7 linked regions of the Homo sapiens genome follow. The protein of the gene in region 7 purifies or fractionates together with the protein of the main gene of each other region. This does not show direct contact. Each region holds a gene or a part of one and is shown on either strand. Other genes may lie near its edges. The genes, in order: PRPF8, SNRNP70, SNRPA, ILF2, SNRPD1, SNW1 and CDC5L.

The links.
Region 1: the proteins of CDC5L (region 7) and PRPF8 fractionate together in Homo sapiens (co-fractionation; 5 studies listed by BioGRID and IntAct, with this or other methods). This does not show direct contact.
Region 2: the proteins of CDC5L (region 7) and SNRNP70 purify together in Homo sapiens (affinity purification with mass spectrometry; 4 studies listed by BioGRID and IntAct, with this or other methods). This does not show direct contact.
Region 3: the proteins of CDC5L (region 7) and SNRPA purify together in Homo sapiens (affinity purification with mass spectrometry; 4 studies listed by BioGRID and IntAct, with this or other methods). This does not show direct contact.
Region 4: the proteins of CDC5L (region 7) and ILF2 purify together in Homo sapiens (affinity purification with mass spectrometry; 4 studies listed by BioGRID and IntAct, with this or other methods). This does not show direct contact.
Region 5: the proteins of CDC5L (region 7) and SNRPD1 purify together in Homo sapiens (affinity purification with mass spectrometry; 4 studies listed by BioGRID and IntAct, with this or other methods). This does not show direct contact.
Region 6: the proteins of CDC5L (region 7) and SNW1 purify together in Homo sapiens (affinity purification with mass spectrometry; 5 studies listed by BioGRID and IntAct, with this or other methods). This does not show direct contact.

The regions. Positions count from the first base shown.
Region 1 is NC_000017.11:1,653,868-1,657,367, reverse strand, and holds part of PRPF8 (pre-mRNA-processing-splicing factor 8), read left to right. Parts: intron 1-606; coding exon 607-720; intron 721-802; coding exon 803-976; intron 977-1,824; coding exon 1,825-2,018; intron 2,019-3,351; coding exon 3,352-3,500. UniProt on the Homo sapiens protein: Plays a role in pre-mRNA splicing as core component of precatalytic, catalytic and postcatalytic spliceosomal complexes, both of the predominant U2-type spliceosome and the minor U12-type spliceosome.
Region 2 is NC_000019.10:49,084,222-49,088,250, reverse strand, and holds the start of SNRNP70 (U1 small nuclear ribonucleoprotein 70 kDa), read right to left. Parts: upstream 2,801-4,029; 5' UTR 2,615-2,800; intron 1,847-2,614; 5' UTR 1,837-1,846; coding exon 1,690-1,836; intron 1-1,689. UniProt on the Homo sapiens protein: Component of the spliceosomal U1 snRNP, which is essential for recognition of the pre-mRNA 5' splice-site and the subsequent assembly of the spliceosome. SNRNP70 binds to the loop I region of U1-snRNA.
Region 3 is NC_000019.10:40,749,882-40,754,002, forward strand, and holds the start of SNRPA (U1 small nuclear ribonucleoprotein A), read left to right. Parts: upstream 1-1,321; 5' UTR 1,322-1,527; coding exon 1,528-1,600; intron 1,601-4,121. UniProt on the Homo sapiens protein: Component of the spliceosomal U1 snRNP, which is essential for recognition of the pre-mRNA 5' splice-site and the subsequent assembly of the spliceosome. U1 snRNP is the first snRNP to interact with pre-mRNA.
Region 4 is NC_000001.11:153,664,641-153,667,993, reverse strand, and holds part of ILF2 (interleukin enhancer-binding factor 2), read left to right. Parts: intron 1-336; coding exon 337-439; intron 440-2,265; coding exon 2,266-2,331; intron 2,332-2,657; coding exon 2,658-2,774; intron 2,775-3,353. UniProt on the Homo sapiens protein: Chromatin-interacting protein that forms a stable heterodimer with interleukin enhancer-binding factor 3/ILF3 and plays a role in several biological processes including transcription, innate immunity or cell growth.
Region 5 is NC_000018.10:21,618,814-21,622,313, reverse strand, and holds part of SNRPD1 (small nuclear ribonucleoprotein Sm D1), read right to left. Parts: intron 1-3,500. UniProt on the Homo sapiens protein: Plays a role in pre-mRNA splicing as a core component of the spliceosomal U1, U2, U4 and U5 small nuclear ribonucleoproteins (snRNPs), the building blocks of the spliceosome.
Region 6 is NC_000014.9:77,751,157-77,754,656, forward strand, and holds part of SNW1 (SNW domain-containing protein 1), read right to left. Parts: intron 325-3,500; coding exon 163-324; intron 1-162. UniProt on the Homo sapiens protein: Involved in pre-mRNA splicing as component of the spliceosome. As a component of the minor spliceosome, involved in the splicing of U12-type introns in pre-mRNAs.
Region 7 is NC_000006.12:44,422,206-44,425,705, reverse strand, and holds part of CDC5L (cell division cycle 5-like protein), read right to left. Parts: intron 3,060-3,500; coding exon 2,897-3,059; intron 1,288-2,896; coding exon 1,123-1,287; intron 1-1,122.

The sequences.
Region 1 (3,500 bases), on a different chromosome or scaffold from region 7:
GGCCCAGCAACGCATATTCTTGAAACATCCACTTTGACCAAATCTCTTCTCTACCTCACAACTCTTGCTGAATTAACTCTTCTTTAGCTTCCTAGACGTTCAACATCTGGCTGGGCTGTATCTGTCCAGCCAGTTTCTCTTCCTTTACATTTATAGCATGTTTCATCTTACATTCAGTCCAGGATCTTAGTAGCCCAAACCCCTGATGCTCATCTCCAAATCTGTGTTTTGCTTGTATTTTTCTTTCTAGAATGAACTCCCCTCTTTGCTCTGTTAATCACAGTCCCTCCTTAAGACACGTTTTTTTGTGCAGCTTTTTTCTGATCCTAGTAGCCTTAATTTCTTTTGTTCCTGAACTCTGTAAAACAGTGTATAGTTTAGCACATACTCATGTGTCAGCTTGTGGTATTGTCTTGTTGAAAGGGGCTGTCAGCCTGGTCATTGGACACGGCCATTTGATACTCTTTGTACCTTCTAAGTGCCTAACATTTAACATCAGTGTTCAATAGAAACGTAGTTGGATTATTTCAAAACTAGGATATTCTGTTCTAGTTGATCTGGGAGGGTAGAGACTAAATTTCCATTTTCTTCTCTCTTGCTTTTAAGTTGGCTAAGTGGAAGACAGCTGAGGAGGTGGCCGCCCTGATCCGATCTCTGCCTGTGGAGGAGCAGCCCAAGCAGATCATTGTCACCAGGAAGGGCATGCTGGACCCACTGGAGGTAAGAGGGTGGGGTGGGGTAGGAGAAAAGAGACCTTGAGACCTTCAGGCTGTTTCTCATCTTGGACTTGATCTTGTCTTAGGTGCACTTACTGGACTTCCCCAATATTGTCATCAAAGGATCGGAGCTCCAACTCCCTTTCCAGGCGTGTCTCAAGGTGGAAAAATTCGGGGATCTCATCCTTAAAGCCACTGAGCCCCAGATGGTTCTCTTCAACCTCTATGACGACTGGCTCAAGACTATTTCATCTTACACGGTATGAACCTCGGGAAGAGAAGATCGCTGGAGGAGGAGCGGGTTTAGGGTTAGGAGAAGATCCTGTGTCAGGTTTTTGCCATTTTCACATTTTTAGCCTATAGATTGGGTGGGAACTCTGTTGACTTTCATGAGAGTTTAAGACCTTAAAGTTAAAAATCAACTCTTGGGGCCGGGCGTGGTGGCTCACGCCCGTAATCCCAGCACTTTGGGAGGCTGAGTTGGGTGAATCACCTGAGGTCAGGAGTTTGAGATCAGGCTGGCCAACATGACGAGACCCCATCTCTACTAAAAATACAACAAAATTAGCCGAGTGTGCTGGGATGCACCTGTAGTCCCAGCTACTCGGGAGGCTGAGGCACCAGAATCACTGGAACCCAGGAGGCAGAGGTTGCAGTGAGCCGAGATGGCACCATTGCACTCCAGCCTGGGCGACAGAGTAAGACTGTCTAAAAAAAAAAAAAAAAAGGCCGGGCGCAGTGGCTCACGCCTGTAATCCCAGCACTTTGGGAGGCCGAGGCGGCGGATCACGAGGTCAGGAGATTGAGACCATCCTGGCTAACACAGTGAAACCCCATCTCTACTAAAAATACAAAAAATTAGCCGGGCGTGGTGGCAGGTGCCTGTCATCCCAGCTATTCGGGAGGCTGAGGCAGGAGAATGGTATGAACCTGGGAGGCGGAGCTTGCAGTGAGCCGAGATCATGCCACTGCACTCCAGCCTGGGCGACAGAGCAAGACTCTGTCTCAAAAGAAAAAAAAAAAATTCTTGGGTTTCATGAAAGGTTAGGATTAAAGTGGGAGAGCCTCAAGCAGCTGACCTACCCCACTCTTCCAAATCTTTTCCCAGGCCTTCTCCCGTCTCATCCTGATTCTGCGTGCCCTACATGTGAACAACGATCGGGCAAAAGTGATCCTGAAGCCAGACAAGACTACTATTACAGAACCACACCACATCTGGCCCACTCTGACTGACGAAGAATGGATCAAGGTCGAGGTGCAGCTCAAGGATCTGATCTTGGCTGACTACGGCAAGAAAAACAAGTGAGCAGTGCTGGTGGGGACACAGACAGGAGGTCTATATACGGTTTTCTGGGGTTTTTTGGAAGCACTTAGGCTTAGAAGTTTCTCAAGAAGGCCAGGCGCGGTGGCTCATGCCTGTAATCCCAGCACTTTGGGAGGCCAAGGTGGGTAGATCATTTGAGGTCAGGAGTTTGAAACCATCCTGGCCAACGTGGTGAAACTCCGTCTCTACTAAAAATACAAAAGTTAGCCGGGTGCGATGGCGCCTACCTGTAATCCCAGCTACTCGGGAGGCTGAGGCAGGAGAATTGCTTGAACCTGGGGGCAGAGGTTGCAGTGAGCCGAGATCATGCCACTGCACTCCAGCCTGGGCGACAAGAGTGAGACTGTCTCCAAAAAAAAAAAAAAAAAAGACGTTTCTCAAGAAATTATCTTGTCTTAGCCAGGCTTGAGTGCTCATGCTAGTAATACCAGCACTTTGGGAGGCCAAGGTGGGAGGATTGCATGAGCCAGGAGTTGAAACCAGCCTGATCAACAAGAGACTGACGCCATCTCTACCAAAAAAAAAAAATTTAAAACAGGTGTGGTGGTACACGCTTGTAGTCCCAGCTTCTTGGAGGCTGAGGCAGGAGGCTTGCTTGAGCCCGGGGGTTTGAGGCTGCAGTGAGCCATGATGATGCCACTGTACTCCAGCCTGGGTAACAGAGCGAGACTCTTGTCTTGAAAACAAGGAAAGAAATTATCTTACAGAGTCTCGAGGAAGAGAGATACAGCAGTGTCTTCGAATAGTATGGGAAGCATCCCTGTTTTAGGGCTTCAGTCTGACTCTTGGCCATTGTTTCTCACTGTTGCCATTTCAAACAGGGCATTTCTTTACTGTCCATACATGGGAAGAATTTTGAACATCCGAGACCCTAAGTATCCGAGACTGCTGCCAACACACACACACACCTTCCTCCCCTCGTCTCCCTCCCTGTCATCGTGGCAACCAAAATTATCCATAGGGTGACGGACAATACCACCTCTGATTAAGAACCAGTATTCTAGGGTTTCTGGGGTTTCCATTTCTGAGAACAGTTCCATGCCAGAGCATTGTTTTGGTCAAGGAAGCGTAGGGTTTATGGATGCTAAACAGTGGGAAGGTGCACACGCAGTGTGCTGTCCCGCTTGGATCTGACGAATCTTGGAAGTGTTAGTGCACCTCCGTTTCACACTTCCTGTAGAAGCAGCTCTTGTGGATTGTCTGGGGCGTGAGTATAGGCTGTCCTGTCCTACCAAGTTACACCCTTTCCATTGAGGCAGAAGTGACCAAGGGGAAGGGATCCTTGTAATATAACCCACACCATCCCCACAGTGTGAACGTGGCATCACTGACACAATCAGAAATTCGAGACATCATCCTGGGTATGGAGATCTCGGCACCGTCACAGCAGCGGCAGCAGATCGCTGAGATCGAGAAGCAGACCAAGGAACAATCGCAGCTGACGGCAACACAGACTCGCA
Region 2 (4,029 bases), on a different chromosome or scaffold from region 7:
AGCCTAGGCAACAGAGCGAGACTCCAAGTCAAAAAAAAAAAAAAAAAAAAAGTACCTGGCTCCCAGGCATGGTGGCTCACACCTGTAATCCCAGCACTCTGGGAGGCCAAGGGGGGTGGATCACCTGAGGTTAGGGGTTCGAAACCAGCCTGGCCTACATGGTGAAACCCCATCTCTACTAAAAATACAAAATTAGCCAGGCGTGGTGGTGCATGCCTGTAATCCCAGCTACTTGAGAGGCTGAGGCAGGAGAACTGCTTGAACCGGAGGCTGCAGTTGGCTAAAATCACGCCACTGCACTCCAGCCTGGGCAACAGAGCAAAACTGTCTCATAAATAAATAAATGGTAACTGGCACATGACCTGCATCATCAAAGGGCACCTACCACCCGCCTGTGCCCATTAAGTTAATTGGCCAGTAATATCTCTCAAGTGCGGGTTCACCAAGGGTGGCAAATCCCACTGAAGACATACCTTTCTGTTATCTACGAAATTCTGCTCTGCAACTCCCTCGCCTCCAGCTGCCCTTACCTACCCAATGCTAGAACGTTCTTCTTGTAACTTCCGACTGTGTGCCAGCTTTTCTCAGGTGTGCTCTGATGCACCTAAGAGATGACCCTTGTCATCCCATTTCACAAATAAAAACACAGAGGTCCAGGAGCCTAAGTCATTCATTCCTATTTATCCCAAAGGTGCAGAGCTAAGATCCCCATCTGCAGTTTTAAGCCCTCCAATACTCAATACTGGGTGCTAAGCCTTTATGAACATCATCTTATTAACAATAAAAGTAGTAAACAGAGTAACAAAGGCTGACATGTGCTGACTGCTTGGTGCCAAGCCCCCTGACATACAGTTTGCCATTTAATTCTCCACCAACATTATAAGGGTGCTACCACTATCCCCTTGCTAAAGATAAAGAAACCAATGCATTAAGAGGATACAACATTTGCCCAAAGTCAGAGCTGATAAATGGTGTGGGTTAGGCATGAATCCTCAACCACTACTCACTGAATTTTCACAAAAATTCTACAAAAGGTGTACTATCAACCCCACTTTTTTTTTTTTTTTTTTTTTGAGACAGTCTTGTTCTGTTGCTCAGGATGGAGTGCAGTGGCGCGATCTCGGCTCATTGCAACCTCCGCCTCCTGGGTTCAAGTGATTCCCGTGCCTCAGCCTCCCAAGTAGCTGGAATTACAGGCACCATGTCCGGCTAATTTTTGTTATTTTTAGCAGAGACGTGGTTTCACCATGTTGGCCAGGCTGGTCTTCAACTCCTCACCTCAAGTGATCCGCCTGCCTCGGTCTCCCAAAGTACTGGGATTACAGGCGTGAGCCACCGTACCGGGCCACAACCCCACTTAAAAAAAAAATTTTTTTTTTGAGAGACGAAGTCCTGCTCTGTCACCCAGGCCGGAGTATAGTGGCACAATCACAAAGCACTCCAGCCTCCGACTCCTGGGCTCAAGCAATCCTCCCACCTCAGCCTCCTGAGTAGCTGAGACTACAGACGCACTCGACCACACCCGACACCCGGCTCCAACCCCATTTAAAACAGAGAAACTGAGGATCACAAAGGTTAAGCCCCTCGCTTAAATCACGCAGCTGGCAAAATGGCCAGAAGCTGGACTCGCAAATCCAACCCGTTGCTCCCCAGAACCCAAACCATTCCTGGCCTGCTCAGTGAACTCACCTCAAACTCTCGAATGTACGGCGCAATGCCACAATAAGGTTGATTGTGGTGTTTTTCATGTGGCAGTTTCTCCAGGGGTGGCAGGTATGGAATAGGGTCACGGGGGGCAAAGAGGGCCAGAAGGTTGGGCGGCAGGAACTGGGTCATCTTGCCAAGTCTGAGAGCAGAAGCAGGACAGCCTTAGGTTAGATCGGGTCTGCACAGAGAAAGCCCCTGTTACTCCTTGACTCTCAAAATAAGAAAGACAGGAGAAAAGTCTCGGAATTAAAACAGGCTCTGTAAGGGCAGAGAACAGTCCTGTGTTGCGGAGAAAAGGGTACGTCTTGGTGGGGGTGGAGGTGAAAGGCCGGTAAAGAAAACAAAAATAACGGCTGGAAAAGGGTTCCTGAAGAGTGAAGTCTCAGAGTCCTCTGACACGAGCTGTGGGGCGGAGAGGTTCCCTGGGAATTTCTGGGGAAATCAAGGACCCGAGGAGGGAGGCCCAGAGCAGCTGTGGCTGCTCGTCCCGTGCCGTGGAGGGCAAATTACGAGATGCAGTTTGCAGGGTCCTGGGGATCGGAAGTTTCCAAGCAAAGAAAGAGAAACATAAGGAGCGAAGCCCCAAAACCAAGTGCTTGTGGGTAACAGACCTGGACCCCGCAAAAAGCGAAAGGAATTATGGGTAAGGGTCCAGGACAACATAGACAAACGAAAAAGAAAAAAGGCCACACACCGCAAGGGCCTGTGGGTAGGGAACCACGAGGGCGCTGTGGGAAGCGGGCGTGGGTGCCCAGAGATTTCGGGGTCCGGGAAAGGGATGCAGAAGGGACCTGTGGCGGGGACGCGGGAAAGGGGCCTGGCCGCGGGGAAGAGGACCGGGCCCACCGCTGGGGCTTCTGGGTAGCGGCCCCGCACCCCGTCGGGCCACTCAGTCACACTCACTCACCGCGTAGCGCCCTCCTCGCTCTGGCGTCTGTCCGGAGGCTCGCGGCGGCTGCGGCAGCCCCTCAGCAACAACAACTCCTGCTTCGGCTTCCACTCCGGGGGCGTCCACGTCCGTCTGATTCCGTCGCCCGCTAAGCGAGCGCACCAGGCCGCTGCTCAGCCACCCGCGCGGCCTCCGATAGCGACTGGAGCAGGGGGTGGGTCCCGGCCGCAAATCCCTCCGCCGTCCTCACTGCGCACGCGCCGTGCGGTGCCAACAACAACCCACACACTAGGACCCGGCGCTGCCGCGGGCACAGCGCACGCGCGAGGTCACTACCCCGCCTTTGGGCACCTTGAGTACCTCAGCCGCGGGGGGCTGGCTTCTGCACTGCGCGCGCGCGCTTGCCCCAAGCCGCCCCTCCACCTCCCGCTTTCCGCGCCGAACCGCCTATGTCCGCGAGACTCTCCCTGATGCTCCGCCCCTTTCCGATCACACTTCCCGGATCTTTCGCGCATGCGTTTTGCGTAGAGAACTGTAACGTACCTCTCCGCCGCCTAGCAAAGAGTCCCTAGGTGAACAGCCTGATTGCGTTGATGTCTAATCTATTCAATCAATAACTATTCATCGAGCATCTCGTGTGTGCTAGGCACTGTCTGGGCTTTGGGGGTACAGCACGTGATTAAAGCAAAGTCTTCTGCTGCTAGGGCTTACATTGTACTGGGAGAGACAATAAAAGCATTTAACTGAATAAAGATAATTTGAGGCCAGGCGCGGTGGATCACGCCTGTAATCCCAGAACTTTTGGGAGGCTGAGGCGGGCAGATCACCTGAGGTCAGGAGTGTGAGACCAACCTGACCAACATGGTGAAAGCCCGTCTCTACTAAAAATACAAAAATTAGCCGGGCGTGGCCGTGCGCGCCTGTAAGCCCGGTTACTCTGGAGGCTGAGGCGGGAGAATCGCTTGAACTCGGGAGGCGGAGGTTGCAGTGAGCCGAGGTCGTGCCATTGCACTCCAGCCTGGGCGACAGAGCGACTCCGTCTCAAAAGTAAATAAATAAATAAATAATAAAAGATAATTTGAGATAGTGGCCAGCATAATGAAGAACGATGGAGCAGAATAAAGGGATGGGAAGTGAGAGCGAGGCTGTTTTAGAAAGGGTGATAATGGAAGGCCCCTCTGAAGAGGTAACATTTGAATAAAGGACAGATAGAAGCGAGATCTGGGGTGGGGCCGGGGGGGCGGTGTTTAACAGTAAGTGCAAAGGTCCTGAACTGAGACCAGATGGCAGGAATCTCAGGTTGTTGGCCATGAGATCAGAGAGCTGGCACTTGTTATTTAGAGCCCTGTTCTTAAGTATTGTATCTTAAGTTTTGTGGATGGATTCAATAGCCTGTTTAATAACTACAGAAATTATTGCAAATTAAAATGACT
Region 3 (4,121 bases), on a different chromosome or scaffold from region 7:
TGGAGATTTTAAAGGTTTAAGAGCTGAGTTCCAGAATCTGGGGACTGAGCAGTGGGTGTGAAAGGACCAGGGCTAATATTTGAAACCACGGGAGCAGGAATTGCGAGGCTGACTCAAGTCATAAGGCACCTGACGGTTAACAGGGTGGGGTCCTTAAATCCGGAACCGGATCTGTGGTACCGGTTGGGTTACCTCGGGAGTCTTAGGTGGAGAGTTAGTAGGAGTTAACTCATTCTTTGGGGCTGGATGTGGAAACTCATGAGTGAGTTTGGGATATGAAGGCTCAGATCTAGAGTGAGGTGCCTTAAGGATGCGACTTAGGGACCCAGGGCTAAAGATTCGGAGAACTTAGGTTCAGTACCCCCTCACATCCCAGGCCCGAGTTCGGAACCTTTGAGCTGACCTTTGAGTCAGAGGTCAAGAGGTCAAAAAGGACACCTGGCAGGGAAAATGGCCTAGTTGTGGAGAAGGTCCTGGAACCAGAGCAACAAAAAACGTCTGTGGGTTGGAGAAGACTCAGAGATCAGAGGCCGGTGGGCGCCGCGATAACCACTGGAAAAAGGAAAGGAGTCAGGAAGTAAAGTGCACCTCCCACTCCCGGAAAATGGCGGCCCCCGCACACTGCCTTTCCCATATCACGTGGTATTACACGCAACAGTTCCCGCCCATTTTGCGATCACGTGACAGAAAACGCAGCTCTGGCGGGGGTAAGAGGCGGGACTCCAAAAAGGATTGCCTCCGGAAGACACCGCAGCGCGAGACGCGTACAGACTCGTGACCTTCACTGATTGGTCCGTAGACCCGGGCGCCACGGAAGGAGGTGGGCTTTCAGGGAGTGGGGCGGGGTTTTTCTACCTAGGCGGGAACCCAAATATCGTTTTGATTGGCAACAGCTGAGCCCAGAAACGAGACTTGCTCTGATTGGTCAAGCTACTGCGTTTCCGCGCGGCGATTGGCTGGCAGAAAGGCAGAGGCGGGGCCAGGAGAGAAAGCTTTGTGGTTTGGTCTCAGGGAAGTAGCAGGCGCCGGTTGAGAGAACTACGGCCCTGTCGGAAGGTAACCTCCGGTGCAAACGACCATCGGCGGCAGGCGAGCGGTACGCTTGGCGTCCGGGCCTTCCTGGGCCCGTCTGAGGAAACTTGCTGCTCGAGGCCAGGCTGCCTAGGACCTGTCCCTTTTTTCTATACTGGCTCCCACATCCGGGTTTTTTCTCCGGGACGGCCCTTCGGATGCTTGGGCCAATGGGAATCGCCATTTAGGGTGCTCCGCCCACCGGGTCGCGTAGAGCATCCTGGAAGTCGTAGTAAATCTCTCGAGAGTTCTCTCCGCACGCGGGCTGGAGAAGCGGGTCCTACGCACGCTTTGTTGTCGCGCTTTGCCTCCGTCCTTGCCCCTACTCCCGCCTTACCTGACTTCCTTTTCGGAGGAAGATCCTTGAGCAGCCGACGTTGGGACAAAGGATTTGGAGAAACCCAGGGCTAAAGTCACGTTTTTCCTCCTTTAAGACTTACCTCAACACTTCACTCCATGGCAGTTCCCGAGACCCGCCCTAACCACACTATTTATATCAACAACCTCAATGAGAAGATCAAGAAGGATGGTGAGTTCTCGGGATAGTCCGGAGTCCAGACTGTCCCGCACGGGCTGGCCCCTCTTCCGTCCCCTGCACCCGCCTCTCTTTCTAAGTGTTTGTCCAGCCAAACTTCGAGTTAACTCCTTGGCCTTTACACAAACTACTTCCTGTCTTCAACACTCCATTAGTTCATCTTACACTCTGCCCTTTAACGTGGTCACTGCTGCTCATCTTACAAGGTTTGAGGTCACAGGACCCTTCCTCCAGGAAGCCTTGCCTTGTCCCTTCACGTGGCTGCCGCTGACTTGCCGTACGCTGAGACCATCTCCCATCAAGCCCTGATTCCTCTGAGCTGTCGTGGGGCTCTCTCTCCTCCCAGTGGCCTTTGAACTCCGTGAGGGCAAGGACTGGGGCTTTCTTGGTCACCGGCTTTTTCAGTGATCAGCCCACAATGAACATGTACCATAATGGTGGCTAACGCTCTGTATCATGGGCTGGTCTGTGTGCTTTCATATAAATCTTGATAACATTTAATTCTCACAACAATCTTGTAGGAAGAAGGCTATTGTTATTCCCATTCGTCAACTAAGAAACTGGGGCCGGGCGCGGTGGCTCACCCCTGTAATCAATCCCAGCACTTTGGGAGGCCGAGGCGGGCGGATCACCTGAGGTCGGGAGTTCGAGACCAGCCTGACCGACATGGAGAAACCCTTTCTCTACTGAAAATACAAAATTAGCCGGGCATGGTGGCGCATGCCTATAATCCCAGCTACTCGGGAGGCTGAGGCAGGAGAATTGCTTGAACCCAGGAGACGGAGGTTGCAGTGAGCCGAGATTGCGCCATTGAACTACAGCCTGGGCAACAAGAGCGAAACTCCGTCTCAAAAAAAAAAGAAAGAAAAGAAAAAGAAACTGAGACAGGGGTGATGTGACTTGCCCAGGGTCACATAGCAAGTAAAGTGGTTGAGGCCACCCGTATAGAATTCTGCTTAGGAACCCAATTTTTGGCCGGGCGTGGTGGTTCAGGCCTGTAAGCCCAACACTTTGGGAGGCTGAGGCAGGAGGATCACTGAAACACAGGAGTTCAAGATCAGCCTAGGCGACAAAGCCAGACCTTTTCTCTACAAAAAAAAAAAAAAAAAAAAAAAAGGCTGGGCGTGGGTGGGGTGCGTCTGTGGTCCCAGCTACTTGGGAGGCTGAAGTGGGAGGATCGCTTGAGCTAGAGAGGTTGAGGCTGCAGTGAGCTATGATTGCACCACTGCACTGCTGCCTGGGCTGAGCAAGAACCTATCTGAAAAAAGGAAAAAAAAAAAGAACTCAATTATTGAAATCGGAAAGACTCTCTCACATTCTCAAGTAAATTATCACCTTTATTGAACCTCATTTTCCAGATCTAAAAACTGAGCAAAATCATAATACCTTTTTTGCATGGATGTTGGGGGAGATTAAATTAGCTAAACCTTGCAGTATTTCTTTTTTATGGTAACTGGCAGCTAGTAAAGGGCTGGATAAATGTTAGCTCTTATCACTTCAAGAAAATTATCGGGAGAACCGAAGGAGCTTGTTGGGATTCAGTTTGAGGTTACCAGTGAAGTTGCTGTTGAAGAAAGCAAAACCAGCAGCCGGGCACTGGCTCACGCCTGTAATCTCAGCACTTTGGGAGGCTGAGGTGGGCAGATCATTTGAGGTCAGGAGTTCAAGACCAGTCTGGCCAAGATGGTGAAACCCCGTCTCTACTGAAAATACAAAAATCAGCTGGATGTGGCGGTGCGCACCTACAGTCCCAGCTACTCGGGAGGCTGAGCAGGAGAATCACTTGAACCCTGGGAAGCAGAGGTCGCAGTGAGCTGAGACCGCACCACTGTACTCCAGCCTGGGTGATAGAGACTGTCTCAAAAAAAAAAAATCAGGAGTGTAAATTTTGCATATGTTTTTTTTTTTTTTTTTTTTTTTTTTTTTTGAGGCAGAGTTTCACTCTGTCACCCAGGCTGGAGTGCAGTGGCACGATCTTGGCTCACTACAACCTCTGCCTCCCAGGTTCAAGCGATTCTCCTGCCTCAGCCTCCCGAGTAGCTGGAATTACAGGCACCCGCCACCACGCCTGGCTAATTTTTATATTTTTAGTAGAGACGGGGTTTCACCATGTTGGCCAGGCTTTTCTCGAACTCCTGACCTTAGGTGATCCGCCCACCTCGGCCTCCCAAAGTGCTGGGATTACAGGTGTGAGCCACCACACCCGGCCTGCATATGTTTTTAGAGTGTGGTGCCCAACCATTATCGGGCAGTGCTGGGGACACATTGGTGACATAGAACCCTGGTTTTTTGTTTTTAAATCTTATTTTATTTATTTATTTATTTTTGAGACGGAGTCTTCCTCTGTCGCCCAGGCTGGAGTGCAGTGGCACCATCTCTGCTCACTGCAAGCTCTGCCTTGCCTCCTGGGTTCACGCCATTCTCCTGCCTCAGCCTCCCGAGTAGCTGGGACTACAGGCGCCCACCAGCACACCCGGCTAATTTTTTGTATATTTAGTAGAGAAGGGGTTTAACC
Region 4 (3,353 bases), on a different chromosome or scaffold from region 7:
TTTTGATGATTTAGTTTTAGGAAAGGGCAGCTTTGGTAGTGTGGAAATTGCCTTGGCTCTTGACTTTTAATTTTCAGTTGTCTATTATCCAAAGCCAAGCCTAAAATGAGAAAGTACAGTGGAATTTCTTTGTAGTACTGATCTTGGGGACAAGACTTGTATCATTGTTATGCTAGCTGTGATGTATCAGGCTTTCATGTGGTGGTTTTGGGGGTGATTTCACCTCTGCTACTTCTTAATTTGGGTAACAGGTAGCTGTGTTGTAACAGTTCTGGGAGGACCTAGGCACCTTTTTTTCTTCTAAATTGTTTTTCCCCGAAATCCTTTTTCCAACAGCAAATTGAAGAAGTTCGACAGGTGGGATCCTATAAAAAGGGGACAATGACTACAGGACACAATGTGGCTGACCTGGTGGTGATACTCAAGATTCTGCCAACGTGTGAGTGTGCCTGTTTCTGGTCATGGGAACAGAACATAGCACTTGGATTAGGGGTTTAGGTATCTTTTTTTGTTTTGAGACAAATTCTCCCTCCGTTGGCCAGGCTGGAGTGCAGTGGTACCATTGTAGCTCACTGCAGCCTTGACCTCCACTACAGCAAGTGATCTTCCCGCCTTAGCCTCCCGAGTAGCTGGGACTACAGATGTGTGCTACCACACCCAGCTAATTTTTGTATTTTTTGTAGATACAGGGTTTCACCGTGTTGCTCGGGCTGGTCTCAAACTCCTGAGCTCAAGCAATCTGCCCACCTCAGCCTCCCAAAGTGCTGGGATTACAGGCGTGAGCCACTGTGCCCAGCCCTTACGGATCTTGAAAGCTCAAATTTCTTGTGAGAAAGGATGTTTGTAAGACAAATGTTTCTAGTTTTTGTTTTTGAGACGGATCTCACTCTGTTGCCCTGGCTGGAGTGTAATGGCGTGATCTCGGTTCACTGCAACCTCCACCTCCTGGGTTCTAGCTGTTTTCCTGCCTTGGCCTCCCAAGTAGCTGGGATTACAGGCAAGTGCCACCATGCCAGGCTAATTTTTCTATTTTTAGTAGAGACGGGGTTTCACCATGTTAGCTAGTCTGGTCTCAAACTCCTGACCTCAGGTGATCCGCCCGCCTTGGCCTCCCAAAGTGTTGGGATTACAGGCGTGAGCCACTGCACCCTGCCTGACAAATGTTTTTTAATGAGTGATAAGGGACAAACGCTGGAGTGTGTGTGTCTGAAAGAATGTATAGCAGGTTACTGTACGGCCATGTTTCTCAACTGGAGGTAATTTTGCCACCCAGGGGATATCTGGCAGTATCTGGCGGTACTTTTGATTGTTAAAACAAGGGGGTGCTACTGGCATCAAAAAAGGGTAGAAGCCAGGTGTGGTGGCTGTATTCCCAGCACTTTGGGAGGCTGAGGCAAGAGGATCACTTGACCCCAGGAGTTTGACCAGCCTGTATAACATAGAGAGATCCTGTACCTACAAAAAGAAAAAAATTAGCTGGGCATGGTGGTGCATGCTTTGGTCCCAGCTACTCAGAAGCCTGAGGTGGGGCCGGGTGCAGTGGCTCACGCCTGTAATCCCAACACTTAGGGAGGCCAAGGCCTGGAGTTCAAGACCAGCCTGGCCAACGTGGCAAAACCCAGTCTCTACCAAAAATATAAAAATTAGCCAGGCGTGGTGGTGGGCGTCTGTAATCCCCACTACTTGGGAGGCTGAGGCAGGAGAGTTGCTTGAACCTGGGAGGCAGAGGTTGGAGTTAGCAGAGATCGTGCCAGTGCACTTCAGCTTGGGTGACAGAGTGAGGCCCTGTCTCAAAAATAAGAAAAAAAGAAAAAAAAAGCAGCAGCCTGAGGTGAGAGGATTGCTTGAGCCCGGGAGGCTGAGGCTGCAGTGAGCTGTGATTGTGCCACTGCACTGCAGCCTGGGTGACAAGAGTGAGACCCTTTCTCAAAAAAAGAAAAAGGATAGAGGCCGTGGATGCTGTTAAACATCCTACATCCCCATCACCCCAAAGATTTGTCTAGCCCAAAATGTTATTAACTGCCACTGACCTGAAAAACCCTGCTGTAGAAAGAGGATATGAGTACAGGAGGGGTCCTGTTCCCTGAGTCTTCCAATTTTTCTGCCCAGGCCTTGGCTTTCTCTTATAAAAGTATATATTCTATTACTTACCCTTGCTTCAGCCTTGGATATGGGACAGAAATGAGAGTGCAAAGTAGCTTAGAGATACATAGAAAGTCTAGGCAAATAAATTATTATAACATTATGTCATTTTCTGTCAATTAGTGGAAGCTGTTGCTGCCCTGGGGAACAAAGTCGTGGAAAGCCTAAGAGCACAGGATCCTTCTGAAGGTTTGCATTTGTTGCTGATTCTGTATTTAGTAGCCATAGGAACCAGGTCTTGTAATTGTAAGTACACTTTCAACAAAATCAGATCAGACCAGATGGAAGAGTAAATGCAGAGTTTTATGTTGTGGGAGTTTTTGGCAGGGGCTTCAGGTGTTCAAGGTGTTCAAGGGAGATCTGTTTGATCTCCCTTCTAAAGCTCTGTATTCTAAATTCTCATTCTGGACTTTGTGCTGTTTTAAAAAATCCACCTGTTCCCCCCCACCCTGGATTTAACTTTGATCATCTAATGGAAATGTGAGTTATAGTTTTTGTTTATTCTGTTTTTTCAGTTTTAACCATGCTGACCAACGAAACTGGCTTTGAAATCAGTTCTTCTGATGCTACAGTGAAGATTCTCATTACAACAGTGCCACCCAATCTTCGAAAACTGGATCCAGAACTCCATTGTTAGTTCTTTTTTTTCCATTGCTGGAAAATTTAGGGGATATTCAAAACATGGTATTGTTGCTGTTTAGTTTACTTAGCTTGTTGCTATTCCACATGCAGCTTCCTGGGAATTGAAGAACTTAGGTTTATTCTGAACTTTGCTCTCTCCCTCTGTAATTTGGAAATAGTTTATCAGCTTGCTAGTGGAATTTTCAGATGGGGTGACCAAGAAAGCATTTGGAGGACTTAAAAAGGACTGAGAAAATATTTATGGAGGGGGATAGGCTTTTGAAGAAAACAGATCTTGCATGTTTCTAGTGATTTTTAGACAAGTGATTTGCTGATATGAGAAACACAGGGTGGCTTAAAGAATTGCAGAGTTGGTCGGGTGCGGTGGCTCACGCCTGTAATCCCAGCACTTTGGGAGGCTGAGGCAGGCAGATCACCTGAGGTCAGGAGTTGGAGACCATCCTGGCCAACATGATGAAACCCCGTCTCTACTAAAATAAAAAATTAGTGGGGCATGATGGCGGTTACCTGTAATCCCAGCTACTCAGGAGGCTGAGGCAGGAGAATTGCTCGAACCCGGGAGGCGGAGG
Region 5 (3,500 bases), on a different chromosome or scaffold from region 7:
CAAAAAATTAGCTGGGCATGGTGGCGGGCACCTGTAGTCCCAGCTACTCGGGAGGCTGAGGCAGGAGAATGGGGTGAACCTGGGAAGCAGAGCTCTCAGTGAGCCGAGATCACGCCACTGCACTCCAGCCTGGGCAACAGAGCGAGACTCCGTCTCAAAAAAAAAAAAAGAAATAAAGAATTACAGTCGGTAAAAAGATTACAAGCTTATTATAATGCCTATAAAGTAAAAATCTCCCTTCCTAACCCCCTGCACTGTGGGTATGTAGGAATATTATTCCAGATCACTTTATATGCATTCAGAAGGATATATACAGATTTCTTTTGACATAAATTGGGTCATATTTTATTCACGTCTATAACTTGTAGTCCTCGTTTAGCAGTTTATATTGGACATATTTCCATTTCAACATACAAAACATTCTAAGAACTGAGGCTGGGCGTGATGGCTCATGCCTATTTATAATCCCAGCACTTTGGGAGGCCGAGGAGGGCGGATCATCTGAGGTCAGGAATTCAAGACCAGCCTGGCCAACATGGTGAAACTCCATCTCTACAAAAACACAAAAATTAGCTGGGCAGGATGGCGTACGCCTGTAATCCTAGCTACTCAGAAGGCTGAGGCAGGAGAATCGCTTAAACCTGGGAGGCAGAGATTGCAGTCAGCCAAGATCGCACCACTGCACTCCAACCTGGGGACAGAGCAAGACTCCATCTCAAAAAAAATTAAAAAAAAATAAAAATAAATTAGCGAGGCAAGGTGGCGCACGCCTGTAATCCCAGCTACTTGGAAGGCTGGGGCATGAGAATCGCTTGAACCCGGGAGGCAGCATTTGCAGTGAGGTGAGATTGTTCCACTGTACCCCAGCCTGAGTGACAGGGCAAGACTCCATCTCACAAAAAGCCAAAATAACAAAATAACATTCTAAGAACTGGAAAGTATTCCACTATATGGAAATGTCAAAATTTATTACCGCCTGTTGACGGACATTACTTTGGTTCAATTTTTTCCCATTACAAACCCAATTATGCAAACCCTCACCAACACAAGTTGCTATAAGTCTTTCAAATTTTTGTCAATTTGATGGGGAAAAAATTTGCTTTTCCTTAATTACCTGTGAGATTGAATATCTTATCTTTTTTTTTTGACACAGAGTCTCGCTCTGTCACCCAGGCTGGAGTGTAGTGGCACAATCTCGGCTCACTGCAACCTCCGCCTCCTAGGTTCACGCCATTCTCCTGCCTCAGCCTCCCGAGTAGCTGGGATTACAGGCGCTCGCCACCACACCTGGCTAATTTTTTGTATTTTTTTTTTAGTAGAGACGGGGTTTCACCATGTTAACCACGATGGCCTTGATCTTCTGACCTCGTGATCCACCCGCCTCGGCCTCCCAAAGTGCTGGGATTACAGGCATGAGCCACCGCGCCCTGCCTGAATATCTTTTCATTAACATGGGAAAACTATTTCTTCCGTGAATTACCTGTTCACATTATTGACATTCTCAATTAGGTTGAGTTTTTCTTTTATTTTCTACTGGTTTGCCAGTCATTCAAGTTTGTTGTTTATGGTTTCTTTAGTCACACAAACTTTTTTCACTTTTATGTTTTGAATTTGTTCACCCTCCTGGGATACATAATTTACCTAAGAAAGGGTTTTTTCTATGCCAAGATTGTAAAAAAATAGTGTCTTATTTTCTTCTACTTTTAGAGTTCTAATCTACTTGGAATTGATCTTTTTTATGCAGTGTAAGGCACAAATCTGTCTTTATTACTTTCCCCAACTGAATAGCCAGTTGCCTTGATAATATATAATGAACAATCTATCCACTTCTCACTTCATCTAAATTTCCGTTCTCCCCTTTTTATAAAATTTTGCAGAGGATGAAAAGTTAAAGGGTTTACAAATATTGTCAATTGCCAGTGCAGTGGCTCATGCCTGTAATTTCACCACTTTGAGAGGCCAAGGTGGGATGATCACTTGAGGCCAGGAGTTCGAGACCTGCCTGGTCAACAAAGCAAGATCCTGTCTCTACAAAAATAAAAATAAAAAAAAAATTAGTTGGCCGGGTGCGGTAGCTCATGCCTGTAACCCCAGCACTTTGGGAGGCCAAGGTGGGCGGGTCACAATGTCAGGAGTTGGAGACCAGCTTGGCCAATATGGTGAAATCCCATCTCTACTAAAAATACAAAAAATTAGCCAGGTGTGGTGGTGCAGGTCTGTAATCCCAGCTACTCAGGAGGCTGAGGCAGCAGAATCGCTTGAACCTGGGAGGCAGAGGTTGCAGTGAGCCAAGATCATGCCATTGCACTGCAGCCTGGGTGACAGAGCAAGACTCCATCTCGAAAAAAATACAAATAAAAAAATTAGCTGGGCCTGTTGGCTCATGCCTGTAGTCTCAGCTCCTCGGAGTCTGAGGTGGGAGGATCGCTAGAGCCCAGGACTTTGAGGCTGCAATGAGCCATGACTGTGTCACTGCCCTGGAGCCTGTGTGGCAGAGCAAGACTCCGTCTTTTTTTAAAATTCTATTTTTTTTTGAGACGGAGTCTCGCTCTGTCACCCAGGCTGGAGTGCAGTGGCATGATCTTGGCTCAATGCAACCTCCACCTCTTGGGTTCAAGCAATTCTCCTGCCTCAGCCTCCCAAGTAGCTGGGACTACAGGCGCCTGCCACCACACCTGGCTGATTTTTGTATTTTTAGTAGAGACAGGGTTTCACCCGTTGGGCTGGTCTCGAACTTCTGACCTCAGGTGATCTGCCCACCTTGGCCTCCCAAAGTGCTGGGATTACAGGCGTAAGCCACCAGGCCTGGCCCTTTTTTTTAAAGACAGTCTTCGCCAGGTGTGGTGGCTCATCCCTGTAATCCCAGCACTTTGGGAGGGCGAGGCAGGCGGATCACCTGAGGTCAGAAGTTCGAGACCAGCCTGGCCAACATGGCGAAACCCCGTCTCTGCTAAAAATACAAAAAAATTAGCCAGACTTGGTGGCACTTGACTGTAATCCCAGCTACTGGGGAGGCTGAGGCAGGAGAATTGCTTGAGCCTGGGAGGCAGAGGTTGCAGTGAGCCAAGACTGCACCACTAAACTCCAGCCTGGACAATAGAGTGAGACTTTGTCAAAAAAACAAACGAAAAAAAATTGATCACACCATCTCAAAGTAAGTTGTAGGCATTACGACACTTCAGCATGCATTTTCTAATGACATTCTCCTATATAACCATAATCTCACAATCACATCTAAGAAAATGAACCCCACACTATCATACAATACACAGTTCATATAAAAACTTTTAGTCTATAATATATACTTTGAATTAACAGATCCTATCATCACACTAAATGGTACACATAAGATAACCTATTATCCTCCCGCACTAGACTATTCTTGAGGGTAGGGATCGTAAGCTCTATATCTAATCCTAGACTGTAATAGGCACTGAATAATGTTGGCTGAAATGTTTTAATGAATAAAGGGAAACCAACCTTAAAATGCCTTTTTTTAA
Region 6 (3,500 bases), on a different chromosome or scaffold from region 7:
CCTACCTCTGCCTCCCAAGTAGCTGGGAATATAGGTACGAGCCACCATGCCCAGCCACTGCTACTTTTAACATAATTCAAACAGCAAGAGATTTATCGTGTCCACAAAATTTAAAATGTTTCCTAAAATATTTATCATTCAGGGAAAACATGAGAGGATTACCTTGTCTTTTGACTGTCCTTGTCGAGCAATTGCATCATATTTAATTTTTCCTTCAGAATCCACCTGAATGGCCAGCGCATTCGACATTTTTTTCTTTCGTCCCATATCCAGTGGATACTGGGCCACATGGATCTCTGGAAAAGCACCTCCATCTCCAAAATCCTACACATTAGAAGTAGTTAAATAAAATAGTTAATCATCATTTGACATTCAAGATATATTCATTCATTCAACAAGTAATTGTTGAGTCCTTAGTATGCTAGATGCTAGAGATACAGCAGAGTTCCCTGCCTCTTGTGGAGTTTACATTCTAGTAGGCAAAGATATAAAAAACACATTCTTTGGCTTGTGATAAGTACCATGAAGGTAATATAAAAGAAAAAGACTGGGAAAAGGGGCTACTTTTGATAGGGTGGTTGGGGACAGCCTTTGTGAAGAAGTAACATGTGAGCTAAAGCCTGAATGATTAGAAAGCAGTCATGGGAAGACACACACACACACACACACACACACACACACACACACACCACACACACACACACACAAAGCATTTTCTAGATGGATCAAATAGCCAATGCAAAGGCCCTGCTGCAAGAATGAGCTTGGTATATTTTAGGAAATGAGAATTCAGTGGGGCTAACAGCTTAATAAGGACAGCAGAGCTTGAGGCACAAGTTACATGAGTAAAAAACACCAGATCACAAAGGGACTTACATGCTACAGCAAGAAAATGTGGATTTCATATATGCAGGACGAAACTAAGTAAAATGGCTAGGACAAGGCAAAATATATGTGTATATATTTTAGCATATAAATACATATTTTAGTGAGGAACAGGTAAAGCTATACTTGGGGCAGAAATATAAAAGATTTTTTCTTGGAATCAGATTTTATTAACATATTATTTATTCATTGTTATGTGAGAAGCAAATGAATACAATAGGAAGGATCCAGAAATGAGTTTACTACATTTCTACTAGTGATTATACATAATTATTTAGGAGAGAGAACTGAGACTGCTAAAGTAGAACAAGCTAAATAAAGTTTGCTGATGAAATGTAGTATTTTAAAAAGGTTTATCAAATAAACATGAGGATCAAGTATAATTTTTAAGTAGTTAAAAAAAATTCAGTAGTATTTGCTTAGTACACTTTAAACATGATTCACACATGTATTATCTCATTTAATCCTTGTAACTCTTTAACATCATTTTAAATGGAAACATTCAGGCTTAGAAAAATTAAGCGGTGTTCCTGAGATCTCATAGGTATTATATGCAGCACCTGAACCCAGATCTTTTGAGACTCCGAAAAGCTTTGTATTTTCTACTACTATGAAATACCTTTCTTTTAGCTCAAAACAGCCAAATGAGTACTATTAAGAAATAATAGAAAACACAAATTAAAATTAATCATTTAGAGGGGGTTTGATGGAAAAAAAAGAAAATATTCACTTTTACAAGACCTCTTTAAGTAATACTCCGTTAGATCTAAGATATATGAGTTCCTAAGTACAATATGCTTATTTGCTAAAGAGATGTTTGAAGTTTTTGAAAACCAAGAGAATAAAGCTGAGAGACATTTTCTTGTAAATGAGAAAGAGTTAAAGCATTCCTAAGATAAGTGCTTCCCGTACCCAAGCCATCAATCTGACACATGCTTGGATTTGCTAGAGTTTTTCAACTATAATAAGTACTTCAGAACTGTAGCTGTAGCATTATGTGGTCATTAAGCTTGCCAGAAAATCATAGCTTTTATTTTGAAAACTAGAACAAAATGCCTTCTTCCACAGAACATTCACTCCCCTCAAGCAGCATCCATAGCATTTCCAGATTAGCTAGCCATTTCAACTTGATTTTCAAATAAGTTGTTCTGTTTCACCAGGATATATGAAACCACTGATAGCCAAGTAAGAATCTAAAAATCTAATAGCAACCAAGTATCGTAATGCTGAAATGCATGGATGAGATTTACATTCTATGTAAGATGATGCCTGTCACCCTCATTGTGCAATGTACTGACAGACCAAACAATATTTATAATGCCTCAACAGAGACACTCAACTGCTCTATTAGATGATGCCAATCACTACTTTTTTGCCCCAGGTAAGACTCCTTGATAATCTTTCATCTTCCTCTGCCTCCCATAAATAACACTATCAGAGAGAACAAAAGCAACAAAAATCCCTTAATAATTGCAATATGACTGGCCTTCACACACCAGCATTCATAAGGACCAGAGGAAAGCTGACAAAAAAGCAACAAAAAGACCTACATGTGGGTTTTTTGGAATACATAGGACAAGATATGATCTAGTTGGGTGTTCCTCTTATAAACTCTAATAAAGAGTGTGGGGCAGGCGCGGTGGCTCACACCTGTAATCCCAGCACTTTAGGAGGCCGAGGCAGGTGGATCACCTGAAGTCAGGAGTTCAAGACCAGCCTAGCAAACATGGTGAAACCCTGTCTGTACTAAAAATACAAAAAATTAGCTGGATGTGGTGGCACGTGCCTGTAATCCTGGCTACTTGGGAGGCTGAGGCAGGAGAATCGCTTGAACCCAGGAGGCGAAGGCTGCAGTGAGCCAAGATCGCACCACTGCACTCCAGCCTGGGAAACGGAGCGAGATTCCATCCCAAAAATAAAAAAAATAAAAATTAATTAATTAATGTAAAGGATCCTGAGTAATTAGAATAGGTGCTGCCAAGGAAGCTTGTTCTTTTTATTTTTATTTTTTATTTTTTTTGAGATGGAGTTTTGCTGTTGTTGCCCAGGCTGGAGTGCAATGGTGCGATCTTGGCTCACCACAACCTCTGCCTCCCAGGTTCAAGCAATTCTCCCGCCTCAGCCTCCGGAGTAGCTGGGATTACAGGCATGCGCCACCACACCTGGCTAATTTTGTATTTTTAGTAGAGACAGGGTTGCTCCATGTTGGTCAGGCTGGTCTCGAACTCCTGGCCTCAGGTGATCTGCCCGCCTTGGCCTCCCAAAGTGCTGGGATTACAGGTGTGAGCCACTGCGCCCGACCGGAAGCTTGTTATTTGGCAACAAGCTAGAGATAGAAAGAGCTATTCCAGATGGTTCCTTCTCCCTCATTGCCTTCAAATCAACCAAATTTTGTCTTATACCCGCAAAAATATATTTAATCTATATATCAGATATATATTAACATTCTCAAATTAAAGGTAAGAAAACAGGTGAAGAGAAAGAAATCAGCAAAGGAAGTGCTACTGGAGTTTTCCCTGAAGGAAAGTTGTCTCTTCAGGGTTATGTGGTATTATCGGAGGGGAGGAGGAGGAGGAGGAGCCCAAATATGAAAACCACTTTCATCTCTCTTATCT
Region 7 (3,500 bases):
AATGTGGGATAACACATTAAAATTTCATGCCATTTCTGAAGGAGTAAATGTAACTCAAAGTAGCTGAGAACTAAACACAAAAAGTATCATCCTCTGTTCCCCACTGAAAAGCACATTTACATGGGTCCCCTCTAAAATATTGTTTCCACTGATGTCATTCTCACTCCAATCCCCTGAGATTCAAGGTCCCTAAAATCATCCAGCAATGGACTGCAGCTACTGAAAGGGGTCATAAAATATCAGTTCTAGTTTAGGATTCACCACTTACCCACCATGAGACCTGAGAAAGTTGAGACCATGAGACCTCAATTCATCTGAGCTTGTTGAGTATTCCTTACTAGAAATATCTGGGCCCAGAGTATCTTGGATTTCTGATTTTTTCAGATTCTGGAACATCTGCATTATACTAACTCTAATCCAAAAAGCTTCAATGAGCATTTCTTTTGAGCTTCATGTCGGCACTCAAAAAGTTTTGAATTTTGGAGCATTTCAGGTGTTGGATTTTTGGATTAGCAATGTTCAACCTGTAATACCGATCCTATTTATATCACTGTGCTGTTACGTGCAAATGAGAAAGTAATTACGTATAAGATATATTAGTACAAAGTGTTACTAATATTATTTTGACACACTCTATCTAAATTTCCAACTCCAGTTTAGATAGAGGTCTTACTATGTTCCCCGGACTGGATTCAAACTCCTGGGCCCAAAGAATCCTCCCACCTCAGCCTCTCGAGCAGCTGAGACTACAGGCTCGTACATCGCACCACCCAGGAACCAAGATGTATTTGTTTTTAAGACTAACCAATAACATCTTTTCTTTGCTAGATTGAAGCAATGTCTAAAAGACTACCTATGTGTATTTTAGAGAAGCATAATGAATTTGACAGAATGTATTTAAATTTCCATATATATATTTTTAAGAATGCTCATCAAAATATTGTGAGTATGTTAATTATGTGAGGATACATTATTAATGACATAAGTTATTTACTTTAGAAGTTTTTTCAATATTAAAAAGGACTAGGTAGAGATCTTGGGACATTTAATGGCTATTCTTCATTCTTCCAGCCTACTGACACATTCAGCCAAACTCACGCTTCTTTCAGTACAGTTACCCACCTGCTTTCGAGCATCCACATCAGCAGCATCTTCAATGTAAGTATCATCTATTTCACGTTCTTCCAGCTCCTTCTCGGCATTTTCTGGTAGAACAATTTCAAAATCATTCTTAGGGGCAGGAAGGCCCAACAACCCTAAACGGAGATGTTCTCGGGATTCTCTTTCCTGTAGAAAAGAAGTGGTCCTTCTCAATTCATGCATATTAAACATTCCACCAGTATTTTATGAGTCTCTTAAAAATTGATAGCACAACAGGGTGACTCTAGTCAAAATAACTGTACATTTTAAAATAACTAAGAATAATTGGATGGTTTCAAACACAAAGGTTAAATGCTTGAGGGGATGAATACCCCATTTTCCACGATATGATTATTACACATGCATGCCTGTATCAAGATATCTCATGTACCCCATAAATATACACACCTACTATGTATCCACAAAAATTAAAAATTACAGAAAGAGAAAAAAAGTCTCAAAAAAAATCAGCCTAATATTAATTCTAGAAAAATAATCCTGACTTCAGAGCTAAGACAAGTCTTATGTTTATTTTCTATCCCCCCTTCTTCCCAACATTAAGACCAACCAAAAACTTTCACTTGTGATCACTGAAGATACTCTGGGATATTCCAACAGGAGGTCTGAGGCCAGGGCAGAAAAAAAGACCACTTTGAGGGAACACATTTCTGACACCGAAAGTTAACAGCAAATGAAAAGAACAGGTTCAAAAGTTAGTTTGTCCTTGGACTAATAAAATCCACTCTAAAAGATACTTGAATTTGTATGTATGTGTTTATTTTTAATGGAAATACTAAATCCCATGCAGAAGAAAGAAAGTAGAGTCCTGGTTCCCAAAAAAGCCTCCTGGTACCCAGAGTTTTCCCATCCATCCTCAGTGCTTACATGTACCAGGTGTGAGGAACAGATGAGTTGCTATATCTAAAACATCCTCCATGCTTACTCATATTGTAGTCTCCATCTGAGACAGCCCCCACCCTCCTTCAGAACATAGCTCCTCTAATAAGGCTTTCCTGTTACCCAACAAATGTGACTATTCCCTTCTTTAACTACCCTAAGCACACTGGTTTTACTCAAAGGGCTTATTCTGTTCTGATATTGCAATTATTTTTGGACTTAGTTTAGTACTGTCAATCTCCCCAGAATATAAATTTCCTTAGGACAAAGGACATCTTTATTCAACTTTAGATCCCCTCAAATGTCCAAATGCATGCTCTGCATGCATGAGGTTCTTAATCTATTTAATTCTTATGTATCCATTCAGAGTTGGCTTTAGTTGATATCAATTTGAACTTTAAAAAACATATATAAATCAACCAAATATATACATGAGGTTAGAATTAATTTTAAACTGAAGACAAGCCAGTATCATTAGAAGTTTTTTTTTTAATTTCACAATGATTTCTGTGGCATTAGATAATAAGGCCCAATAGCAAAGTAATAAACGCAGTAACACGGGCAGAAGCAAAACTTAACTTTTTACAGTTAGCTTTCTACCTCAGCTTGCTAAAGAAAACTTCAGTGAAATCAACAACGAACATCAATATTCACAAACCTAGTAAGCATAAAGAAAGGTGGGTTTTGAGCCCAAAATATTCCCTTTCATCAAGTCTTACAAATAATTCTTTTTCTGGCATCCACAGGTGTATAGATTCTTAAGGTATATGTGATATGCACTAACAGGAGAAATTTTAATTTGGCATCCATGAGATATTAAAAAAAAATTTAAGAGTATTAAAAGGGAATTGACATTTACCATCTGCTTCACGTAAGAGGGATCACTATAGTCTGCCATTCCATCCTCGGGATTAATGTTTAACTTGTCTCGAAGAGGAGTTCTACCCGGAGTAGAGTTAATAACTGGTTTGGGAGTTGTTCCACTCCGGGGAGTCAGCCCTTCAGCTCCATTAGAAGGAGTCCTAGAAAGACAGGAATCCCAATTAACAGAAGTGCCACTTACATTTGGATTGTGCTTTCAAATGTTTTTCACATAAATTATTTCACAGGAAATATAGAAAAAAAAAAGAATAAAGATTTCAAAATTCTGTCCAGCTGGTTTTGTTAGGATCTCTAGGTTAAAATCAATGTTTGGTCTAGCTAGCATGGTATTTTTATTTTACTGACTTACAATAATCACTACATTTGATATTTTCTTGCCTTCCTAAACTACGTCCACTAAACATTATTTCAACCTTTTCTTGGCACATTAGGGCGACTAAGAACATGCAGTGGGCAGGGAGGTGGGCCACCACACTCAATGACCCCAGATGACTCTTTGAGTTTTGTGTATATTTGTCTCCTCCCTCCCTATCAAGCTGTTGGTTCTCACATCACTATCACTGTCATTATTACAAATGTAC